Linked DNA regions of Homo sapiens. The protein of the gene in region 1 interacts with the protein of each later gene in a biochemical or structural test. Each region holds a gene or a part of one and is shown in the gene's direction. Other genes may lie near its edges.

The links.
Region 2: the proteins of ANGPT1 (region 1) and TIE1 interact in a biophysical measurement, tested with the Homo sapiens proteins (2 studies listed by BioGRID and IntAct, with this or other methods).
Region 3: the proteins of ANGPT1 (region 1) and FBLN7 form a complex in vitro, tested with the Homo sapiens proteins (one study listed by BioGRID).

What each region holds. Positions count from the first base shown.
Region 1 is NC_000008.11:107,276,986-107,285,656, reverse strand, and holds part of ANGPT1 (angiopoietin-1 isoform 1 precursor), read left to right. Parts: intron 1-808; coding exon 809-975; intron 976-8,671. UniProt on the Homo sapiens protein: Binds and activates TEK/TIE2 receptor by inducing its dimerization and tyrosine phosphorylation.
Region 2 is NC_000001.11:43,310,147-43,317,981, forward strand, and holds part of TIE1 (tyrosine-protein kinase receptor Tie-1 isoform 1 precursor), read left to right. Parts: intron 1-1,524; coding exon 1,525-1,683; intron 1,684-1,847; coding exon 1,848-1,985; intron 1,986-2,158; coding exon 2,159-2,455; intron 2,456-2,988; coding exon 2,989-3,279; intron 3,280-3,631; coding exon 3,632-3,822; intron 3,823-4,236; coding exon of another isoform or gene 4,237-4,320; exon of another isoform or gene 4,321-5,153; intron 5,154-7,052; coding exon 7,053-7,263; intron 7,264-7,417; coding exon 7,418-7,528; intron 7,529-7,735; coding exon 7,736-7,835. UniProt on the Homo sapiens protein: Transmembrane tyrosine-protein kinase that may modulate TEK/TIE2 activity and contribute to the regulation of angiogenesis.
Region 3 is NC_000002.12:112,132,578-112,141,384, forward strand, and holds the start of FBLN7 (fibulin-7 isoform 1 precursor), read left to right. Parts: upstream 1-5,807; 5' UTR 5,808-6,078; coding exon 6,079-6,153; intron 6,154-8,807. UniProt on the Homo sapiens protein: An adhesion molecule that interacts with extracellular matrix molecules in developing teeth and may play important roles in differentiation and maintenance of odontoblasts as well as in dentin formation.

The sequences.
Region 1 (8,671 bases):
CTCCCTACAAAGAAACTATTTTGAATACTTAACAACCTTGACTTCCCCCAAAGAGAACAATAAAGTCATGTTGACATTCAGAAGCCAAGCAGTCAGCTAGGTTCACTCAGGAGCACTTACAAATCAGCCTTCTGCCTCAAAATTCCAATGCCAGTGCAGCTTTGTAAATAATTACAGTCATGGATTTACAGGGTTGCTTATTAATATTTAAAAATAAGAAAGTTAAAGCTCCAAAAGTCATGGTTCTAGTAATCTATTAGTTTGGTGCAAAAGTAATTATGGTTTTTACCATTGAAAGTAATGGCAAAAACTGCAATTACTTTTGCACCAACCTAAATATGAAGTTATTGTTGAAACATAATTGCATTTGTGAATAATAATAGTAAAAATAATATTGTTAAATAACTTGTCTAATATCACTCTCATAGTGTTCATTGAAAAATCTTTAAACTCTATTCAAAATATTTTGTTAACTAGTAATTTAGAAACATTTTCAAAAGCAAACCTTGAATTGAGAATTGTTTTCCAGTTAAACCTATTAACTAGATTTATTTTATACAAAATGTCTCATCCACACAGATTTGAATAACAGAGGTTTTATTGTACTAAGTAAGAATTAGACAGAAGCTTTGATGAAGAGACACAGAATTATTGAAATGTCAATCACTGGAGAAAAAGTGTAAAATGTAAAAAACAAAAACCTTTACTTTTTAATAATTTTTAATTATTATTTAGAAAATAGTTAAATGCTGAACATGAAAAGAATTCCTCTCTAAAGTAACAACTGCATCTCTATATTGTTTCCCAGGGTTTTGGAAATCCCTCCGGTGAATATTGGCTGGGGAATGAGTTTATTTTTGCCATTACCAGTCAGAGGCAGTACATGCTAAGAATTGAGTTAATGGACTGGGAAGGGAACCGAGCCTATTCACAGTATGACAGATTCCACATAGGAAATGAAAAGCAAAACTATAGGTAAGTCATGCTACAGTGTAGTGTTCGACTACCTTTTACCTAGCCACTTAATAATTGTAGTGGGAAAATATGAAAAAAAGAAATGAAAATCATCCTTCAAAATGAAAATTCTTTTTTTTTTGTCTAGACCTATTACAAAGAGGTACAAAAAAGCCTGTAAAGACTTTTTCAAAGATTTAAATTTCAGTTTTCGTAGGTTGACTATCTTTGATATTGGCTTAAATTTTAGGGAATGGTGAATGAAGTCAAGCATACTGTTGTTCTGTGGTTATCATGCAGTTGCAGTGAATTCATATATATAAAACTGATAAGTTTCATACTCAAACTCATTGGCTTAAATAATCTCTTTATTCTAAAAAAAGATTTTCTGGTTCTACTTTTTTTGATGACCTTTCTTGAATTAGCATTTTTCAAATGATCTTGAAGATGACAAAAGTAAAATTTTTTTATGTTTGAATGATTTACATAAAAGAGAAGATGAGGCATGATTTAGAGGGTTTTCTTGGTAAATCTAAAAAGCAAAAATAAATTGTAATAATGGCATCAATATACATAATACATGATTGCAGATGTAAAAATAGATAAACTATACACTTAATGATACATGTTTCCAATTATCCTTTTTCAATGAGAAGCTCGTCTACTAGGGAAAAATAAACACACAAAAATATGGCTAAGGAAATAATGTGATGTGGTGGATTCATTGCACGAACACTTATTGTGTTACTTCTGTGTTCCTGGAATTCTACTGGGCGCTGGTCTTACAGACGTCAAAGTCAAGCTTTGTTACTAACTAGGTCACTAAAAACTGGCTGGCATTCCTTGGGAACAGGGAAGATATTTTAGTTACTCTTCTACTGCTACTCATTAATGCAATTCTTGATGCCTAGCAGGTCTTTAATTGTGTGTGCCTCAGTTTCATTCTTAGTAAATTAGAGTTGTAATGATTTTTAACTCTCAATATTGTGACTGCTCTACCTCTGTCTTGAAAATATGATTGTATGAATTAAAGGGTGGGCACATTGCTTCAAGTAATTGCAACAATAGCAACCCAACCCTTGCGTGTGTTTTGTTTCAACCTGTGTGGTTATCTCATAGTTCAACTGTTTCTGCTGCTTATTTGTCTTTTCAAGACAAACCTTTTTTTTTTAATTTTTTAAAAGTTTGAATTCTGCATATTTTCATAGGCACAACTCATTTCATTTTAATGGATTATGTATGGGGTTGGATCCTTGGAGACATAATAATCATTTTCTCGACAAATAGTAATGATGTCACCACAACAGAGAATGAGAAATAGATCTAAAAGAGTTGATAGTCTCATGGTGGGGGTGGAGGGGAAGCGAGGGTGTACTTAATGGCAGCTCAAGAAACCAAAGAAGAGACATTTATAAAATGCAATGGAGTGTAAGAAGAAATGTTTCCAAGGAGGTCAATATTTTGAAAGTTTTATAACAAGAAAACCACTGTTAAACATCAGGGATACTCTTATGTAAATGTTTTGACCTGAAACTTGAAACTATATGAAACTTGGCTAATGTCAGACAGCCTGACAATAGGACTAGCAAATAATTAGTCTAGTCTTTTCCTAGGCTCCTGAAGAATTTGCTTTGGTTCCTTTCCAAAATGTCTCTCAGTTTTTCATAGGTGGCTGCATGTGTGTGTGTGTGTGTGCATACACATGCATATGCATGTGTGTCAGGCTTGGAGGGTGTTGCGGGACAGAGTGTTGGGGCAGGGTTAGGAGGATTGTTGGCATCTGTGGTGCACTTCGGAGTGTATGATGTGTATGCCATTCTGCCATCTGCATGAGGAAGGAGTACTCACCTCCTCTTAGAGTGCCCCACTGCCCTTTTGAGCATTTCTCATTTCTTTGACATCTGTGTGATTTTGTATTCTCACCACACAGTAGGGATCTATGATCAAAAAGTAAGTCTTCCCTGCTAGGGTGATGCATACACTCTGATATCCCCATTTTTCTTTCTTGATAGAACTGTGAACCTTGAGAATCAAAATTATAAAGCCAGAAGAAATGTAACAATTTAATTTCAAACCTCTGGTTTTATGGGAAGGAAAGCTGAGGCTCATATATATATATATATATATATATATATATATATATATATATGGTTCATATATGTAATATATATATAATATAATATATGATATATAATATATATGAACTCTTCAAGCCTCACACACATGCATATGCATGTGTACACACGCACACACACACACACACATACACACATATATATACATATGAGCCTCATATATATAATTTTGCCCAAAAAGGGAGAAAGACTTAAATAAGGGATGTCTAACTCCTGCCTCATTCAATGTGGTTTCTGTTCTGTCATGCTGCTGACATGAAGTTAGTGGTTCTGGCCTCTTTCCTGCAGGGACCTAACAGAAAGTAGATGTGCAGTCATCATTTTCTCATGCAATTCAAGTATACGATTCACGTTGACATGAAATGGGAAATGAGAACTCATTAAAACATAATGCTTACTCTGGTGAAAGATTCATTAAAGTAAACACACTATAAGATGGTGTTATTCGCTTTTTCAAAGAAAAATGGAACAGAAGCCTGAAAACAGAAGCTAAGCCCTTGCAACTTTTCTCCCTGCCTGTATCATCACGTATGCCCAGTACTGCTTCTCTAGGCCCATTAATGCCTCCCGTGGCCTGCAGTTAGAACTCACATTGTCCATCACTGCCTCATGTGCTTTTTGTCCATTCATGTCTCGTCCCTCTGAATTGGCGTGTGTCTTTGTGATCAATTGTTTCAAGTATTAATACTAAGATTTGCACAGTATTCCATAACCTATGAAATGATTTTTAACACTACAAGCATATAAACCTCTTTTGGAGGTAGGTATTATTAGACACATTGTTTTTTTGAGACGGAGTCTCACTCTTATCGCCCAGGCTGGAGTGCAATGGCGCGATCTCGGCTCACTGCAACCTCCGCCTCACCGGTTCAAGCAATTCTCCCGCCTCAGCCTCTCTAGTAGCTGGGACTACAGGTGCCTGCCACCATGCCTGGCTAATTTTTTGTATTTTTAGTAGAGACGGAGTTTCACCGTGTTAGCCAGGATGGACTCGATCTCCTGATCTCGTGATCCGCACGCCTCAGCCTCCCAAAGTGCTGGGATTACAGGAGTGAGCCACTGCTCTGGGCCTAGACACATTTAAAAAATAAGAAAACTGAGGTTTTGGTCAGTTGACTTGGTCAAATTCAACTAAATTCCGACTGAAATATAAAACTATGAAATTCATACTAGGTTTTTGTTTTATATTTTTTGTTTTCTATAACTTTTCTCAAAAATTAAATTAAATTAAATTAAATTCAGAATTGTTTGAGGTTTTATTTTCTAAAACATATTCTATCATGGAAATTTTGTTTGAAAATTCTTGTAACAGGTGTGGTCCTAATGTTTAAACCTAACTGTGGTGTTGTTTTTTAAAAAAACATTTATCATGCTCTTGACATATTAATTAAAAGAAAGTGTTGTGAATGGATAGATGAGCTTATAAATGTGCATGTATTACACATATTTTTCTTTTATCCTCTAAGGAAACTCCAAATAATTTTCTCAGATAGAAAATAAAATCTGTAGAACCCAAGAGAATATAAATAAGAAAAAATAATAATGTAAGAGTGTCATGATAAGCATAGCATATGAACTAACATGTATCAATGTGAAATTATTTAATACTTCCTCTAGAGAGGTAGTATTATCCAGATCCTCATCATCTAACACCCAGGCAATTATAGAACCTTCCTGCCTCTTTAGTCTTCATACTCTCATATATATCTTCCATGCTGTTGTTGAGATGATTTTTCTAACAGACAACTTGGTCTTTCCCTCCTTCATATATTTCAACAGTGTTCAAATATCTGCAGGTAAAAGTCTACCACTAAGACTCTTCGTGACCTGGCCACTACCTAATTATGCACCTATTGCTGCCATACACTCTCCCTAACTTTACCTACCTGGATACCCTTCTCATTAACGGTTATGTTCTGGTAACTATTTGCGATTGCCCTAAATCCTCCATGCCTTTGTTTATGCTATATTCTTACTCACTCAACACATAAACTTAACTTTGTCACATGGATACATCTTAAATCTTTAAGATTCTCTCTTATTCCAAGTCTTCCCTGATACCTACTGTGGTAGATGTAACGTGTCAACCCATTGCCTCCTTCAATACTAAAGCGCTTCTTTCTTCCACTTCCGGGAAATGTTGACTGACAGGTTGCAGCTGAAGTCCCCTTTCCAGGCACTGTTTGTAGTTAAAGAAAAATTAGCCGGGCGTGGTAGCACATGCCTATAATCCCAGCTGCTCGGGACGCTGAGACAAGAGAATCACTTGAACCCCGGAGGTGGAGGTTGTAGTGAGCCGAGATTGCGCCATTACACTCCAGTCAGGGCGACAAGAGTGAAACGCCATCTCAAAAAAAAAAATAAAAAAAGAAAGAAAGTAACATCACCCAAGATTACTTCTTGCAAGATACATTGTATCTAATGACTGGTCAATATAAGAATATGAAGACCCTCTTGCCCCAATTTGGGGCAATTCTGAAGAGCCCCTCAGAATCCAAAATTCCACTTCAGATTAGTTGAAGTCTTCACCATGACAGCATGTGAGCCCTGAATCTCCCTTTGCTGAGTTCTGCATGCTTCACTCTGCCACGGATCCTGGGACCTCTCCCTTCTCAACCTCCCTACACTGATTTCCCAGAGAAATGCATCACCCTCATTCTTAGGCCAATTTGGATACTCTGTGCTCCCATTGACCCGTAGCACTCTGGATAACTATCCAGGATCCAAATCCTGTTATAAGTCATTAATGAGTGACTGTTAACTATCTTTAACTTGTGCTCTCTCTCTCCCCCCCCCTTCCTTTGAGTGTGTGTGTGTGTGTACACGTGTGTGTGTATGTGTGTGTGTTCTAAGCTTTTAAAGTGTAGAACCCATTTTGGAAAAATTCAAGATATGTAACTAATTTAGCCAAATTACTGACTAAGCTAGCTATATTTGAGGCACACATACTATACACCAGATGTCTTGTTTTCACAAGAGAAAACTGAGGCATAGTACTTTGCACAAGGTCACAGGCACTGATAACGATGAGTAGGAGTCCGATTTGAAATTTGGTCTTATAACTACCCACCATATGGGCATCCTCAAATAAAGAAGTTCATCAGTTAATTTCTAGAATTAAATAAACCCAAAACACATACTCTAAGATATAGTATATGTTTATTCTAACCCTACTTCTCTCTTTAATAATTTGAATGCCTTTGGACACATTACCTATCTTTCCAGTTCTCAATTTTCTATTCTTACAAGTTAAAGTATTTGTAAAGCACCTTGTAGCTCAAAAATTTTCTACAATAGAACTACCTTTACCTGTGCATCACTATTTTTATTACCTTTCAATTCTTTGATAAAAAATTAAATTTGATCTCTCTAATAAACACTTGAGAGTTTATTATCAGTTTAAAAAAACAAATACACAACCACCACTGCAACAATAAATGCTTTAAAAATATTTTAATAATAGCAGATTTATTGTAGGGTTGAGGAGATGCTATGTCCACTGGAAGGAGCTCTGGAGTCGGAATCAGGATGTGGAGGCTGAGAAGAAATCTGGCTCTACCACCTGGGAAACTGGCATGGTTGTATTTGTCAGTGTTCAGTCAGGGGAGCAGAGCCATGATGAGTCTTACGGAAATAAGGTTAAAACATATGCTTGAAATTTGGCATGGCAGACAAGCCAGAGCTTGTGAAAATCTAAGAAACCAAACACGTGTAGCCACCAAAGTGGAACCACAAAAGGGAAGATCTACAGAAATTTGTTGCCTTGCTGTAGTTCCATTAAATGAGGTTGTGCAGTCAAGCATCTTGTGGTGGGTCTGGAGCTGTTGCCAGCATCAGGAAGACAAGCTGGGTGCTAAGTGAAGAAATACACAATGTAGAAACTGTCAGGCATCTCTGCCCCTGGACTTCACCATATCTGATGACGTTCTCAGAGTCAGGCCACTGCTTCACTTTCGCCTTCCAAATCTCACACAAAATTCTCTTTTAGCCAACCCCAGCTTAGAACCTTACAATGAAGGGGATTCAGGGAAATGGAGTACCCAGATTAACCAAGTTGATATTACTTTTATGCCTCAGTTTTCTTATCTTTCAGTGGGAATAATATCCTCGAATCAAAAAGAGTGTACATATATACCTTGTATTTGGTAAACTTAAATATCATGCTAATACGAAAGCTGTTTAGAGACTGGGTACAGTGGTTCACACCTGTAATTCCACCACTTAGGGAGGCCAAAGTGGGAGGACTGCTTGAGGTCAGGAGTTTGACATCAGCCTGGGCAACATAGCGAGAACTTTGTCTCTATTAAAAATTAAAAAAACAAACATTCACTTGGCGTGGTGTTGCACACCCATTGTCCCAGCTACTTAGGAGGCTGAGGCAGAAGGATTGCTTGAGCCCAGGAGGTTGAGGTTGCAGTGAGCTGTGATTGCACTGCTGCATTCAAGCCTGGCTGACAAAACATGACCCTGTCTTTAAAAAAAAAAAAAAGAAAAGAAAAGAGCAAACAGACTTTTTAAATTAAATTTTTATCATGCCCAAGAAATATATTATTGAGTCAATAAACAATTTTTAATTATATATTCTATATCGAAATCACCACTATTGTCTCCAACAATGTCCTTGGCTGGTTGATAGTTGTTTATTTACTTGGATTCAGGATCCCATCCAGCTTCACTCATTGCATTTGCAGTCATGTCTCTTGAGTCGCCTTTTACCTGAAACAGTCTACCACTCATCTATCAATTACATTTTTCAAGACTTTGGGTCAGCTTTTCCCAGAACAGCTCTTTCTGGGCTTATCTGACTATTTCTTTCTGATTAGATTCAGATTAAAGCTTTCTTGAGAAGAATACTAAATAAATGATATTGTCTATTTCCCATTCTATCACATCCAAAGGCACAAAAGATTAATTTGTTCCATTATTGATTGGGCTAAGCTTAATCACTTGTTAAGGTTTTGTTTTTGGTTTTTTAATGGAATACCTATTCTCTCCAAAATTCTTACAAAGGATCATAATGTATGAAACACGTAAAGCTGATCTATTTTGAAATGGTTGTGGGAAGGTAGTATAATATTTCCTCTTGCTATTATCTCAAACATTAGTACAGCACAGTTTAAAAACCATTGTGTTATATTATTATAAATAAAAAAGTAGAATTTACCAGTTGGAAATAAATTTCACTGTACTATTTTTAAATGTTAAAAGAAAACTATATAAAAATTTTTCTGCCTTAATATTAAAAGGACACAATTTTAGTGAACATATTCCATTATAAAGTCATTTTGCAGGTAATTATTTTCAGATCTTGGGAACAGTTTGTTCCTTACAGTTCATTATTTTGTTGTCTTTTATGCTATTAACTTAATTAGTAAATCCTCTGTCACAGATGGTATCATGAGCCTCTCTTTTAAGCAATAGAAAATTAGTATTAGTTAAGTCCGAATGATAATGTTTAACATTTTTTAATGCACATCTTGTCATTATAATCTTACTACATAATTTATAATGCACATTTTGTGGATATTTATATTTTATTGACTTTATATTATTTATTGAGGATAAATGACATCATTAGATTA
Region 2 (7,835 bases), on another chromosome or scaffold:
ACCCCATGTAAGCCCCCTCTCTCACCTTCTGCTTTCTCGTTGCCACACTCTGCCTCCCAGGTCCTCGCCATCTCCCTATCCCGTGACTATGCATGACTCTCTGCCATCAAGCCTCACCTTCCGCCTTTCTCTTCTCACTGTGCCCAGGCTTAGGAGCCAGACAACCTGGGCTTGAATCCTCTCTCCACAAATTCCTTGCCCCATCACCTTAAGGAAACTACTTAACCTCTCTTACTTTGTTTCTCTCTTTGTGAAATGGGGATAGCTAGCACTTGATGGGGTTGTTACAAAGATTAAATTTGATGATGTATTTAAGCATTTAGCACAGTGCCCGATACAGGGTGTGTGCTCAATGTATGTCGATAATTATTGTTATTATTTAAAATGTCACCTAGTCCCTAGATTTTGATAGTTCTCTGGCAGCTCTCACATATGATCTGCAGCCAGGACCCCTCTTCTGACTCCAGATCATTTGGTGGGGACTCCATGAAGTGGGGCATCTACTCTGGAAGTCTGGTTTTGAAGTTGGTGTGGAAAGTAGCTGCTGTATGATTCGGAGGCCCATTTTATATCCAGCCACTTCCTGGACATCTAATCCCCTGCGTGAGCCAAAGGCACCAAGGGCTTCTCTGCACCCAAAATGGACCTTCATCTCCCCGCAAATCAGCACTGCCCTCCTGACATGCTCATTGCTGCCTGACACTCCCTCAGCTTACAGCGCGGCATCCTTTTCCTCCCTCGCTCCCTCCCTCTTTCCTTCCTTCCTTTCCTCTCAAAAAGCCAATCTGGTAAACATTTGTAAGAGTCAAGGGAACCTGTTAAAAGCACTAATGCAATAATCTGGAGAGAAAAAGTTGAGGCCAGAATAGGAGCAGCGATCATGGGGTGAGGAAGTGGGGCAGGAACAAGAAGGCTGTTTTGGAGTAGAATGGATAGATCTGAGGCGGCCTGCGCAGACAGACCTAGTTCAACACATGGCTGTATCTCCTTCTAGTTGTGTGTCCTTAGGCAAGTTATTCGGTGTCTCTGAGTCTCAGTGTTTTCATAATGCAGGGTAATGTGCCCTGACAGAAAGGTGGCTGTGAGAATTAGAGGTCATGCTATGAAGCGTGTGGCGGGGAGCAGGTGCTTCAGTGCCAGTGCCATTTTTTTTTTTTAATAAGAGAGTGGTGAATGAGGGCAGGGGCAGAGAGCAGGATGATGCCCAGGTAGTCTCCCTGACCTGGGTTTCGGCCCCTTCTGTCTACCCCCACACTGCATGGGAAGAGTGCACCCCCAAACCATGTCTGGCCATGTCACTTCCTCATCTACCATCTTTTGGGACACCCTCATGCCTTTATTGCTTAATCCTTGTGCCCCAAGCTACCCAGGGGCCTGAACTCTGTCCTCCCTGGGCCCTGGCCACTATGGTCATCTGTTGAACTTGGTGTCCCTCAAGCCCAGAGGGTCCCCAGCTTGAAACAAAGATGCAGAAGTGGACTGGATAGGCTGTGTGCCCATGCCTTACCCTGAGTCTCCTGGCAGTGCCCCCCGTGCCCCTGGCTGCACCTCGGCTCCTGACCAAGCAGAGCCGCCAGCTTGTGGTCTCCCCGCTGGTCTCGTTCTCTGGGGATGGACCCATCTCCACTGTCCGCCTGCACTACCGGCCCCAGGACAGTACCATGGACTGGTCGACCATTGTGGGTGAGTAGGGAGAGAGCTGGGGCAGGACAGAGGTGTTGGGTAATAGTGAAGGGATACAGTGAGCAGGAGAGGGAGGGCAAATGGTGCGAGGGGGCTGAAGGGAGCATGGCAGCTTCTAGAAGAGGTGGGGGCTGAATAATGTGTGCTTTACACCCCACGCCCAGTGGACCCCAGTGAGAACGTGACGTTAATGAACCTGAGGCCAAAGACAGGATACAGTGTTCGTGTGCAGCTGAGCCGGCCAGGGGAAGGAGGAGAGGGGGCCTGGGGGCCTCCCACCCTCATGACCACAGACTGTCCTGGTGAGAGGCCAAGAGTCATCCCTTCCTGTCCCCCCAAGGGTTACTTTCCCGTCGACCCCAGGGACCCCTGCCTTTCCCACTGGAGGTTGTTCTTCCTTGTTCACTGGGGATCATTGTCCTGTCCAGCCCCAAGTACCTACTGGACAGTTCTGACCCCTGACCTCTGGCCCCAGAGCCTTTGTTGCAGCCGTGGTTGGAGGGCTGGCATGTGGAAGGCACTGACCGGCTGCGAGTGAGCTGGTCCTTGCCCTTGGTGCCCGGGCCACTGGTGGGCGACGGTTTCCTGCTGCGCCTGTGGGACGGGACACGGGGGCAGGAGCGGCGGGAGAACGTCTCATCCCCCCAGGCCCGCACTGCCCTCCTGACGGGACTCACGCCTGGCACCCACTACCAGCTGGATGTGCAGCTCTACCACTGCACCCTCCTGGGCCCGGCCTCGCCCCCTGCACACGTGCTTCTGCCCCCCAGTGGTATGTGCAAGGCGCAAGGATAGCTGGGGGTTGGGGGAGGACGTGGGACACAGGGACACATGAGACCTAGGAGACACGGGAGGCTGTAGGAGATTAATGGACATGGAGAGGACACAGGACACACATAGGGTATTAGGCAGACGTGACCCCAGCGGGGACATGGGACTTGGGGAAGATCCAGGGTACCAGGAGGACACAGATCACCAGGAGCATGTGGGGAGAGCATGGGGAGGTCAGGGTTCATGGCGAGAACCAGGGTCATGGGAGGGCATGAGACTTGCGGAACACAGGGCATGGGCGGATGTGGAGAGGACTTGGGATACAAGAAGTACAAGGAGAAGCAGAAGCTTGAGGGTGAAAGTGGCCTGGGGGAATGGAGAGGAATTCAGTCTGGTGGGGAGGAGGAAGTTGGCAGGGTGGCCCCTGTGCTTGGACCCACAGAGGAGGGAGCACAGCTAGAGCAGATGTGTCCAGCCCCACAGCTACATAGCCCGGTCCTATCTGAGCCTTGCCTTCCCCCACCATCTCCCCAGGGCCTCCAGCCCCCCGACACCTCCACGCCCAGGCCCTCTCAGACTCCGAGATCCAGCTGACATGGAAGCACCCGGAGGCTCTGCCTGGGCCAATATCCAAGTACGTTGTGGAGGTGCAGGTGGCTGGGGGTGCAGGAGACCCACTGTGGATAGACGTGGACAGGCCTGAGGAGACAAGCACCATCATCCGTGGCCTCAACGCCAGCACGCGCTACCTCTTCCGCATGCGGGCCAGCATTCAGGGGCTCGGGGACTGGAGCAACACAGTAGAAGAGTCCACCCTGGGCAACGGTGAGAGGGCAGGGCCCACAGGACCCCCCGGGCTCTGAGCGGGGAGAGCTCAGCACGCTCTCCTTCCACATCACCCCCTACTGTGGAGCTAGGGCATCCCAGGCCCCTCCTGACAAAGAGTCAGCCCCAGTCCTGGGGACTCAGCCTTCCATTCTCATGATCCACTGTCCCAGGGCTGGGAAAATCATGTCGCCCCTCTGACACCCCTCATCCCTTCCTTCATGTGGCCCAAGTGATTTCCTGACAGTCCTGGCACTGGGATCTTTCACCTCTCCCTCTGTGTAACCCCATGGTGGCCTCTGGGTTCCCTGACCCAGGTGTCCCCACAATCTGCCCCTCTCACTGTGTCCAGGGCTGCAGGCTGAGGGCCCAGTCCAAGAGAGCCGGGCAGCTGAAGAGGGCCTGGATCAGCAGCTGATCCTGGCGGTGGTGGGCTCCGTGTCTGCCACCTGCCTCACCATCCTGGCTGCCCTTTTAACCCTGGTGTGCATCCGCAGAAGCTGCCTGCATCGGAGACGCACCTTCACCTACCAGTCAGGCTCGGTCAGTGACCCGCCCCGCCCCTGGGTGCATGCTTGCAGCCCGTGTTTATGTTTCTACCTGTGTACACACAATACCTTGTACACCTTGTGTGTGTGTGTGTGTGTGTGTTTATGTTGCAGGTATAAGATTACACTCAACAATGTTCAAGGGTACAAAATATAATTTTCTTTATTTCTCTAAAACTGAATTCAGCTCATGAGCCCATTTATATTAGTGGTGAAATATTTAATATTCCCATTTCAAAAGAATTCCGTGATGACCATATTTCACAATGGACATTCCAGTTTTGGGCTCCGTCAATTGGAGATTTTCCTCTCCCCTCTTTTATTTCTCCCTAGCGGTTATCTAGGCCTAGATAGCAAGGTGATCAAATGGAAGGGCACTTGGGGTTCATGCTGGCTTTTGTCCTTGCAGGCCTTCCTGGGCTCGGGAGCCAGCCTCTGTCTGCACACATCTTTGGCTGATGTTCTTAGCCCTGCTGTGGCCACCTGCCAGTAGGCCAGTCATGCTGTGAGCTCCTCATCCTAACCTTCATTCTTGCAAATCCCAGGGCCTCCTTTTGGAGACTTAAGAAAGGGGCTGGGCACAGTGACTTGCACCTGTAATCCTAGCATTTTGGGAGGCTGAGGCGGGTGGATCGCCTGAGGTCAGGAGTTTGAGACCAGCCTGGCCAACATGGTGAAACCTTGTCTCTACTAAAAATACAAAAATTAGCCAGGCGTGGTGGTGCATGCCTGTAATCCCAGCTACTCGGGAGGCTGAGGCAGGAGAATTGCTTAAACCCGGGAGGCGGAGGTTGCAGTGAGCCGAGATGTTGCCACTGCACTCCAGCCTGGGCAATAGAGCAAGACCCTGTCTCAAAAAATTAAAAAAGAAAAAGAAACAGAACTAAAGAACTGTAGGGGCTTCCTTATACCTTATGGAAGGAGGCATATTCTGTGGCCCTCAGACCGCTGCCACAACCCCTTCCCACTTAGACAACTGTTTCTACCACTCCAGAATTGTGCTGGCCTGCTCCTTGAAAGAGGAAGCACAAACCTCCACTCCTCCTGGCTTCCCTGTAATCCTGCCCGAGTTGTCTGTCCTCCTGTAGCCCACACCCTTCTGTCCCTCAGGCCCCTGCTTAGAGGTGGGGTGTGGGAGGGCACCCACTGTCACTTTATCCTGTCACATTCTAGCCGCCCATCCGCAGGTCCTGTCTCCTCTGAGGGCTTCTTCATTGTCGTCACTTAGGATCTGAACTCTGTCCTTGGCCTTCCAGGCCTGGACTCTTGATATTTAGAGCTAAGCTTTGGCATTTCAAATAAAAAATAAAAAAAGAAAGAAAACCCTCTTCTCTCTCAAGGGCTGATCCTTGTGATAGAAAGCCTAGTGTCTCTGCTATGCCTTTGAAAAATCCATTCAGAGGCCGGGCGTGGTGGCTCATGCCTGTAATCCCAGCACTTTGGGAGGCTGAGGCGGGTGGATCATGAGGTCAGGAGTTCAAGACCAGCCTGCCCAGTTGGTGAAACCCCATCTCTACTAAAGCTACAAAAATTAGCCAGGCACAGTGGCAGGAGCCTGTAATCCCAGCTACTAGGGAGGCTGAGGCAGGAGAACTGCTTGAACCCGGATGGCAGAGGTTGCAGTGAGCCAATATCACGCCACTGCACTCCAGCCTGGATGACAGAGTGAGTGAGACTCCATCTCAAAAAAAAAAATCCATTCAGAGATTCAATTGGCTTCTTTGTTCCAAGCTGTGTTGGCTCTTCCTCTGAGGTCAGTGCACACAGAAAGCCCTCACTGCTGTGGTGGGGGAGGGTAATGGGTACAGATGTCGAGGGCAGGAGGTGGGAAAGCAGTCCTTAACATACATGGTGTCATACTCTATATCAAGATATATCCCCCTAGCCTGGGCAACATGGCAAAACCCCATCTCTACAATAAAAGAAAATATGAAAATTAGATGGGCGTGGAGGTGTGCACCTGTGGTCCCAACTACTCGGGAGGCTGAGGTGGGAGGATTGCCTGTGCCCAAAAGCTCGAGGTAACAATGAGCTGAGATCGTGCCATTGCCCTTCCGCCTGGGCAACAGAGCGAGACCTTGTCTCAAAACAAACAAAAAGATATATCCCTGGTACATGTGCCTGCATATGGATAGGAAACGTGTGTGCACAAATGTGTGTGCTCCATGTATGAGTGCACACGTGCATCCCCTGTGAGTGCCACATGTTTAAATGCGTGTGTCCCAGATGCACGTGTCCCTATGCCTGTGCACCTTCAGGCCTGCATGTGTGTATGGACCTATACATGATGCACCTACATATGGTGCTGCCCAAGAACATCACGTGCATTTGCTATGTGCCGTCAGCACCAGTGCTTCTTGCAAATCCCTGGGCCCCAGGTCCTCAGCCCTTGCCCATCAAGCTGGACTTCAGTGCACTTAGGAAGCCCCACCAGAAGGTCTGTCTTAACCCTGCTTCCAGTTCTCATATTGGCAGTTTCTTTGGTCCTGTTCACTTATTTCCTTTTCCCACCATCAGCCCCACCCAGATGGCCTCCTCCTACTGAGTTAGGAAATTGGACATTCCTCTTTGTTATAGTCTTGCTATTTTCAGGTCCTGGCCTGATTTTAGAGCTATGGAGAAAAGCCAAGTGTGTGGACAGGGTAATCTCTGCTTCTGCTACTGTGGAGAAAACCCCTCCACTGGCTCCCAGCAGCTCAGGGCTGAGCATGTAGTAGGTGCTCAATAAATGTCCCCTGGCCTACTCCCTAAGGCTGGAATCTTCTCCAGAGCTTCCCTGGTGACCCCCAACAACAACAACAACAAAAAGCCTGGTTGTAGGATTAGCACAGTCATAGGAAGCTCATTCCGATCCTTTTCTGTTTTAAATGTTAGAAATATCCTCCTTCCATTGACTCACATTGTGGCTTCTAGCAACTTTACCCACAAGCCCTGGTTCTGCCTTCCAGAGTCCCGTACACTAGATCCCCTGGCTGCAGCCTCTGCATTTCTCTCCTTGGACATCTGTCCACCCAGCAGCCTACCTGTGGCTCTGTTACCTATGATTCTGTCTCAGTTATGTCCTCTGTCTGCCTGTCTGTCCCTGGCTGACCACCAGGGTGCCCTCCATCTGGGTCTCTGCCCACTTGTCTGACACTGAAACCTCCTCGTGTGCCTGTCTGTGCCTCCTTCCGCCCCCTTTGACTCTTGCGTGGACCGTCTGCCCTCTTGTCTCATCCTGTGAAGGGCGAGGAGACCATCCTGCAGTTCAGCTCAGGGACCTTGACACTTACCCGGCGGCCAAAACTGCAGCCCGAGCCCCTGAGCTACCCAGTGCTAGAGTGGGAGGACATCACCTTTGAGGACCTCATCGGGGAGGGGAACTTCGGCCAGGTCATCCGGGCCATGATCAAGAAGGACGGGCTGAAGATGAACGCAGCCATCAAAATGCTGAAAGGTCCACTGGGGCGACCCCTGGCCCAGCCCTGATGCTCTCCTTTGTCCCACAAATCCCAGGCCCCACCTGGCTTCCTCCAGCAATTGACCCCAGCCCTTGCCAGCCCTTTCTCCAGAGTTATTTCTGGCAAAATAATATTGGATTCTTTACACAGAGTATGCCTCTGAAAATGACCATCGTGACTTTGCGGGAGAACTGGAAGTTCTGTGCAAATTGGGGCATCACCCCAACATCATCAACCTCCTGGGGGCCTGTAAGAACCGAGGTGAGCCCCCAGCTCATCACCTACCCCTTCTTCCAAACCCCCATCCTCAGCCATCACCTCCACCACATGAGTAGCTTGCCAGGGGCTGCTGGTGACCTGTGCACCACCCTTGATCCTCCTTCATCCCTGTCTGTTACCATCGGGTGCCTGCTCCCACCCTAGGTTGCCTGTGTCTAAATCACCACTGTCTGTCTCTTTGCCTCTCAGGTTACTTGTATATCGCTATTGAATATGCCCCCTACGGGAACCTGCTAGATTTTCTGCGGAAAAGCCGGGTCCTAGAGACTGACCCAGCTTTTGCTCGAGA
Region 3 (8,807 bases), on another chromosome or scaffold:
GCATGCATTTTATATGCAAACCAAATAACCCCAAGTTCATACTCCTGCTTGTTTCCTTTTATCTGCTACGATATCCTTTTGCCCTAAACACCGCAAAGCTGGGTGCTGGACAACTAGGGACTACCCCTAGAGCCTAGAGCCCATCCAAACTCTTCAAACTATCCAATCCTAAACCTGCTTAGCTTGCTTACCTTGTTTCAATTGTTCCTTCCTGCAAAAACCACAATAAAGTCACTTGTCCACAGTTCCTCTCTCTCTCTCTCTCTTTCTCTCTTTTCCTCTCTCTCTGCCTGCTCATCTCACCTGGGCATTTTCCTGTGTGATCCTGCATGACATACCATCCCTCTTGTTCTTAGGAGACTGTGAGTATAATAAAAACTTCTTTCTTCATGGAAATTATTTTCATGTCTATGTATCTTACCACATCTGATTAAAACAAATCCTAGGTGCTATTGAAACAAATAAAGATATGAGCAGAAACCAATGAAATTTTAAACAAACACTTGAGAAAATTAACAAAGCAAAAAGTTGTCTCTTTGAGAAGAAAAACAAAATTTATAAATGTTTAGCTATAATAATTAAGAAGAAAGGGAAAGAGCACAAATCATCAATATTAGGAACAAAAGAAGGGCTACCACTACAGATCCTACAGCCATTAAAAAGATAAGTGAATAATACCATTTTATGCCACTACATTTGGCAAATTAGATAAAATTAAAGAATTCCTTGAAAACTATAATGTATAACTGACATAAGGTGAAATAAAATATTAAATTATACACACATTTATTTAAAGATAATTTTAGACTTAAAAGTTGCAAAATTAGCACTTACACCTTTTATCCAGGTTTTCTTTTTGCTTAGCATTTACTCAATTTCAGTTTGATCTTGGGCAACCTACTGAAGCATTCTAAGCCTCAGTTTCACAATCTGTAAAATGAGATTAATAATGGGACCCATTTCACTGGGTTGTCATGAGAACAAATGAGAGCATTTGTGACTGGTTTACAGTAGGTGCTCAAGACATGTTTGTTTCCTTCTTATGTTGTCCCTGTATGAAGGACCATCAGTATAAGCAATGTCCCTTTAACTGAGCACTTACTTTATGCTCAGCATTGTGTTAGGCACTTTATTATTTTGAAATCTCATAATCTCTTTGATAAATACTTGTATTCTCATATATAAATCAAGAAGCTGAGGCCTGTAAAGATTAAGAGGTTACAAGTTCACACTGGCAGCAAGAAGGGGGTAAGATTTGGCCGAGGCACGTCTGACTTCAAAGGCTGTGTGTGCCTGACTGCATCCACCATCTCTGCTGCTTCCAAAGGCATGTGGAATGGCATTCGTGGATGTTCAATGTCTTGCTCCTTTTGGCAGATGTTAACTGGTGTTTGGTCTTTAATCACAGCACAGTGAAATCTGCTTTTCTACAGGCTTTCATCTTGTAAAATTGGAAATGCTTTTCTAGGGGGAACGGTTTCTACTGGCAGTCCTGATATCATACATAAGTAGACAGTCTCTTCACCTTTCAGCACAGGACTGCACAGTTCTGTTGGCTAAAGCTCTAGATATAATGTGAGAATGTAGTGCCTGGTACAGGGCCATGCCCGGAGTTGGCACTTGATAGATATTTTTGTAGTGAATGAATTGGATGAAGTCACTGCACCTCTGCTAGACCGTTCTCCCTACACGGTTTCTACCCTATTATCCTGTCAGGCTAACATGCTGGACTTTGTTCCTGGGACCTCTGTAGGTGCTTCGTAGGGGTTGATGACATTTAGAACCACAGAGAAATGTGGGGTAAAGGATGAAAAGGGAGAGAAGCAGCTGCAAATGAGCTGACAGTAAGACTCAGCCATAGCTGAATCAGTAAGTCCATGAACCCAAAATGGTATGCAACATGGTATGGGGCACCACTGGGGACCCAGAGGAGCCCCCAGGACAGCTCTGGAAGGATAATTTCAGACTGGATCTTGCTTCTGCTAGCATCTGTTTATTTATTTAATTTATTTTTGTCTTTCTGAGACAGAGTCTCACTCTGTCGCCCAGGCTAGAGTGCAGTAGCAATCTTGGCTCACTGCAAGCTCTGCCTCCCGGGTTCATGCCATTCTCCTGCCTCAGCCTCCCGAGTAGCTGGGACTACAGGTGCCCACCACCATGCCCAGCTAATTTGTTGTATTTTTAGTACAGATGGGGTTTCACCATAATAGCTAGGATGGTCTCGATCTCCTGACCTCGCAATCCGCCCACCTCAGCCTCCCAAATGCTGGGATTATAGGTGTGAGCCACCACACCCAGCTTTTTTTTTTCTTTTTTTTTTAGATGGAGTCTCACTCTGTTGCCCAGGCCAGAGTGCAGTGGCACAATCTTAGGTCATTGCAACCTCCGCCTCCTATGTTCAAGTGAGTCTCCTGCCTCAGCCTCCCAGGTAGCTGGGATTACAGGTGCCTGCTACCACACTCGGCTAATTTTTGTACTTTTAGTAGAGACAGGGTTTCATCATCTTGGCCAGGCTGGTCTCAAACTCCTGACCTCAAGTGATCCGCCTGTTTCAGCTCCCAAAGTGCTGAGATTACAGGCATGAACCACCGCACCTGGCCTCTGTTGGGGTCTTAAAGACAAATTTCTGCAACAAATCTTCCCATTTTGTGTTGCATGCCTATGTTACACAGAGAACCTGAATGTATCAGAGCACTAATCCAAGGAGATGGCAACTGATCTTACCAAAAGATGTTTAAAATACTTTCTGTAGACATGTTGAACCCCACCAAACCAATCCCCCGACACTCAGGAATATTCTCTTGAAAACTAAATAGAGGGGAAATAGAGGAATAAACTAGCTGATAAGGGCCAGGCATGGTGGCTCATGGCTGTAATCCCAGCACTTTGGGAGGCTGAGACGGGTGGATCACGAGGTCAGGAGTTCAAGACCAGCCTGGCCAAGATGGTGAAACCCCGTCTCTACTAAAAATACAAAAATCAGCTGGGCATGGTGGCAGGTGCCTGTAATCCCAGCTACTTGAGAGGCTGAGGCAGGAGAATAGATTGCCTCTGTGAGGCAGCAGAGGTTACAGTGAGCTGAGATCATGCCACTGCACTCCAGCCTGGGCAATAGAGTGAGACTGTCTCAAAAAAAAAAAAAAAAAAGGCTGATAGGCCCATTGTATTCAGTTAAAGGTGAGGGTTGGGGGCTTAAAGGTAGAGCACCCAGCTGATTTTCATGGGCTGTCTGCTTGTAGACAGCCTTGGTAGGTTCTGGACTTGATAGGCTCTGCCTTGATTACTGCAGATCCAGGGCAGCTGAGGACAAAGACAGAGAAAGGACAGTGCTGCTGGGGCAGTCAGATCTTAGAAGGTTCATTCAGACCAGATGCCAGAACACTTAGAGGGAAGGCAGCCATAGGGAAAGGGTTACAAATATAAATAATTACATAGGAAAAAAAATCCTGTTGAAACTTAGAAATATTTGAAAAGTAAAAACAAAAGCAAAAACCCAAGAAAACAAAAAACAACAACAACAAAAAAACAGAAAACCCCCCATTACTGTAAATAAAATTCCTGAAATGCTATGATCATGTATTTAATATAAGCAACATAGTAGCCCTAAAATGAGAGGTGGGATAAAGTCAAAGGTAGTCTGTCCTAGAAACAGCACCGCTCTGGGAGGGGGATCTTGAGACCAGAGTTTGCATTCCTTGGGCAAGTCAGTCAACCATGCCCCGATTCAGCTTCTTCATCTGTGAAATCAAGAATCTCTTCCAGCTTTATGACTCCACAGAAAGGGCAGGAGAAGAGAAAAGAAGGCTTGCTTACATCTGCCCGATGTCTGGTTACCAGCGCATAGCCAGAACAAGGCTGAGAGCCAGAACAGCTGGCCTTCCAGAGAAGGTCGCCATGTAAACACAAGGTGGGATAGGACACAAAATATTAATAAATGCAGCCACACTGACCAGGAGGAAGCTTTTCAAGGATAGGGCAGAGGACAGAGAGACAGAGAGGGAGCAGGGCACTGGCTTTTGGTACAGACAGCAAACACATGAGAGATCGAGGCAGAAAACCACCATCTCCACAGGCTGCCCTGGATCGGGCCATGCTGTCCCGTCCTCTCCACCTGGATAGGGAGAAGCAGGGGTATGACCATGTCTCTCTTCAGGATGTTCAACCAGGAATGCAAAATAAAATTACATGGATCCCTTGCAGGCTGCAGTGGCTCACACCTATAATCCCAGCACTTTGGGAGGCTGAGGCGGGTGGGTCATTTGAGGTCAGGAGTTCAAGACAAGCCTGGCCAACATGGTGAAAACCTGTCTCTACTAAAAATACAAAAATTAGCTAGGCGTGGTGGTGCATGCCTGTAGCCCCAGCTGCTTGGGAGGCTGAGGCAGGAGAATTACTTGAACCAGGGAGGCAAGGCTGCAGTGAGCTGAGATCAGGCCACTGCACTCCAGCCTAGGCAACAGAGCAAGACGCCGTCTCAAAGAAAAAAAAGATTTACATGGGTCCCGTTCCACCTCCTTTGCATGGGAAGGTTGGGGGAGCAGCACTGTAGGATTTCCTGGGCAACCAATGCCCAGGAGGCCAGCCTAAACCATGTCCCCTGCTTTTTGGGGCACTGGCTAGGTTCTGAATGTTGGTGTCTCCCCTAAATTTATATGTTGGAAACCTCATTCCCAAGATGATGGCATTAGGAGGTGGGACCTTTGGGAGGTGACTAGGTCATGAGTGCAGAGCCCTCAAAATTGGGATTAGTGCCCTCAGAAAAGAGGCCCCAGAGAGCTGCCTTTCCCCTGTGAGGACACGGGAACCAGAACTCTGGCCCTCGCCAAACACCTAATCTATTGACACCTTGATCTTGGACCTCCCAGTCTCCAGAACTGTGAGAAACACGTTCTATTGTTTATAAGCCACTCAGTTTATGGTATTTTGCTATAGCAGTTTGAAGGGACTAAGCCAGGACTCCAGCTTTCCTTTCTGGCCTCTGCTGGGAAACAGCTCCTGCTCTGTGGTCACAGTCTTGTGGGCTCCCCGTTCCCTGAGCTCTGAGTGGGCTCAACAAAGTGAAATGTGGAAGAGGAAAAAGAGATCTGGGGCTTGACCAGACTTGTGTGTCCCAGGACATCTGCAGTGACTGCCTTCAGAAAACCTTCCAGGAAGAACGTCAGTCATGCCTTCCGGGAGCTCAGGTCTGAGGCATCTGGTTGTACCACAGCCCTGATGGCAGGGGACTTCAGACTGCTCATGCCGGCCTGGCACTTCCTGATTCGACTTCAGCAAGGCAGGCAATGTTCTAGAACCTGACCTCCGATTTAAACTGAGTTTCTCCTTCCCTTGAGCAAGGAGGACAGTGAATCAGAAGGACGTAGATCCCCTCACTGTATCACTGTGTGTGTATCTACTCACTGTGCGTGCGTGTTCTCACGGCCCCATTGCATTATTTAAAGGGACACTAGTTTATTCGGATGGAGAGCTCAGTCCACCCCACGTCAAGCTTATGAAGCCCATTTCCTGGCCCCCTTCTAGGAATGTCGGGAGGAGGGTGTCGCGTGGGCTTTGAAGTAGGACAGACCTGGGTTTGGGTTTCTGTTCTGCCACTTGTCCTTGGTGACTGAGCCTCAGTCTACTTGGTTGGGAAATAGGACGGTCGGGAGTGAACCCGCCCAGGGTGGGCTTCCAGTCACCCGCACATATGCGGGGCACTGGCCGCCCATCCCTGCCAGGCCCCGAGGATGCCCGCGCTCGTCCTCGGCGTCGCGGGTTGGGCGCGCTCCCGGGCGCATTCCCGGCCGGGCAGCCCCTCCTCCCTCGTCCTTAGCCCAGGGGCCGGCGCCTCCCCGCCTCGCGCGGACTGTCTCGTGCGGGCAGCTGCGGGCGCACCTGGACCCTCGCAAGGCCCGGGCGGCGCCGATCCCCGCGGGACGCGCTGCGCTCGGGGCCTCCCGCCTCCCCCCCTGCCCCAGCCGCCCCCCGGCCGCGCGGCGCCCCGCACCCTGCAGGGACGGCTGCCGCATCGCTGGGACAAACTCGGCAGCGGAGGCAAAGTTATTTCCCCTCCCAGGCAGCGGGATTCCGACTGGCAAGATGGTGCCCAGCTCTCCGCGCGCGCTCTTCCTTCTGCTCCTGATCCTCGCCTGCCCCGAGCCGCGGGCTTCCCAGGTCAGTGTCCCTCCCGCCTCTCTCCAGGCCAGTGTCCCTCCCGCCTCTCTCCAGGCCAGTGTCCCTCCCGCCTCTCTCCAGGCCAGCGTCCCTCCCGCCTCTCTCCCCTGTCCCTCCCGCCTCTCTCCCCTGTCCCTCCCGCCTCTCTCCAGGTCAGTGTCCCTCCCGCCTCTGTCCCCTGTCCCGCGCGCCTCTCTCCACGCCAGTGTCCCTCCCGCCTCTCTCCAGGCCAGCGTCCCTCCCGCCTCTCTCCAGGCCAGCGTCCCTCCCGCCTCTCTCCAGGTCAGCGTCCCTCCCGCCTCTCTCCAGGCCAGCGTCCCTCCCGCCTCTCTCCAGGTCAGCGTCCCTCCCGCCTCTCTCCAGGCCAGTGTCCCTCCCGCCTCTCTCCAGGCCAGCCAGTGTCCCTCCCGCCTCTCTCCACGCCAGTGTCCCTCCCGCCTCTCTCCAGGCCAGTGTCCCTCCCGCCTCTCTCCAGGCCAGTGTCCTTCACGCCTCTCTCCAGGTCAGTGTCCCTCCCGCCTCTCTCCAGGCCAGCGTCCCTCCCGCCTCTCTCCAGGTCAGCGTCCCTCCCGCCTCTCTCCAGGCCAGCGTCCCTCCCGCCTCTCTCCACGCCAGTGTCCCTCCCGCCTCTCTCCAGGTCAGTGTCCCTCCCGCCTCTCTCCAGGCCAGTGTCCCTCCCGCCTCTCTCCAGGCCAGTGTCCCTCACGCCTCTCTCCAGGTCAGTGTCCCTCCCGCCTCTCTCCAGGCTAGTGTCCCTCCCGCCTCTCTCCAGGCCAGCGTCCCTCCCGCCTCTCTCCAGGTCAGCGTCCCTCCCGCCTCTCTCCAGGCCAGCGTCCCTCCCGCCTCTCTCCACGCCAGTGTCCCTCCCGCCTCTCTCCAGGCTAGTGTCCCTCCCGCCTCTCTCCAGGCCAGCGTCCCTCCCGCCTCTCTCCAGGTCAGCGTCCCTCCCGCCTCTCTCCAGGCCAGCGTCCCTCCCGCCTCTCTCCACGCCAGTGTCCCTCCCGCCTCTCTCCAGGTCAGTGTCCCTCCCGCCTCTCTCCACGCCAGTGTCCCTCCCGCCTCTCTCCAGGCCAGTGTCCCTCCCGCCTCTCTCCAGGCCAGTGTCCCTCCCGCCTCTCTCCACGCCAGTGTCCCTCCCGCCTCTCTCCAGGCCAGTGTCCCTCCCGCCTCTCTCCCCTGTCCCGCGCGCCTCTCTCCATGCCAGTGTCCCTCCCGCCTCTCTCCACGCCAGTGTCCCTCCCGCCTCTCTCCAGGCCAGCGTCCCTCCCGCCTCTCTCCAGGTCAGCGTCCCTCCCGCCTCTCTCCAGGCCAGCGTCCCTCCCGCCTCTCTCCACGCCAGCGTCCCTCCCGCCTCTCTCCACGCCAGCGTCCCTCCCGCCTCTCTCCACGCCAGTGTCCCTCCCGCCTCTCTCCACGCCAGTGTCCCTCCCGCCTCTCTCCAGGCCAGCGTCCCTCCCGCCTCTCTCCAGGCCAGTGTCCCTCCCGCCTCTCTCCCCTGTCCCGCGCGCCTCTCTCCACGCCAGTGTCCCTCCCGCCTCTCTCCAGGTCAGTGTCCCTCCCGCCTCTCTCCAGGTCAGTGTCCCTCCTGCCTCTCTCCAGGCCAGCATCCCTCCTTCCTCTCTCCCCTGTCCCGCGCGCAGGGGAGGCAGCACCAAGGCTGGGGGACCCGGGCTTGCCACTTTCCACTCGGATGCCTGGGTTGAGAGCTCGGAGCGATGCCTGGGCTGGGGTTCAGTTTTCAGAGAGAGGTGCAGGGTCCCCCACCTGTCACCTCAGATGCATCGCTGGCCGGGCCCCTGGGAGGACCCGGGCTGGGCTGCGAAAGCGTCGGTCCATTGTGGGCGAGGACTCCACGTGAGCACCGCCGGGAGGAAGAAGATTTCTCAGGGAGCTATGAGACATTGGTCTTTCCTGGGTCTCCATGAGAGCTCCAGGTCACCTAATTAGCTTAGAGAACGTCCCCGCCCTCCAAACTCCGACATTTAAATTTCCAACCGAAGTATCAGAACACTCACGGGACTTTCTCAGCAGTTTGTGGCATTTCCCAGGCAGAGGTGGCCCGGGAGGTTTCCGAAGCGGTCCCTTCCCGAGCCGGCGAGGCCCTGGATGTGCGACTACATTTTCTTAAACACATATACAGGCGGCTTGCTGTTTAATTTTTCTGTTCTTGCCGTTGGCATTTGTTCGAATCTCACCGGATTTATTTGTTTAATACTTGACCAGATTCGCTTTTATGTTAACCATTAGCAACTGATTTTTAAAATTAAGGCGAGAACTTGAATTGCCGAGTCCGGGACCCACATCCAGCAGAGTAGCCCTGGCAAGCCAGGGTGAGGGGCCCGGCCATGGACTGCCGACCCCGCTACCTGCACAATACCAACAGCGGTGGGCAGCGGAGAGCCTGCACACGGAGTGCCTGGTGCGCCTCAGGCTCCCTGCAGGGCATCTTCCAGTCACTTCATTCCCGGAGCTACCCTGTGAAGTGGGGACTGTTACCCCCATTTTGCAGATGATGAAAGTGAGGCCCAGGGAGGATGAGATGTATTCAAGGTCACACAACCAGAAATGAGCGGAATAAACCCAGTCTCTCTTGTTGGGCTCCAAGATTTCTTCCTTGCCTGCAGACACTTGCCCATACTCCCTGGCCAGAGACT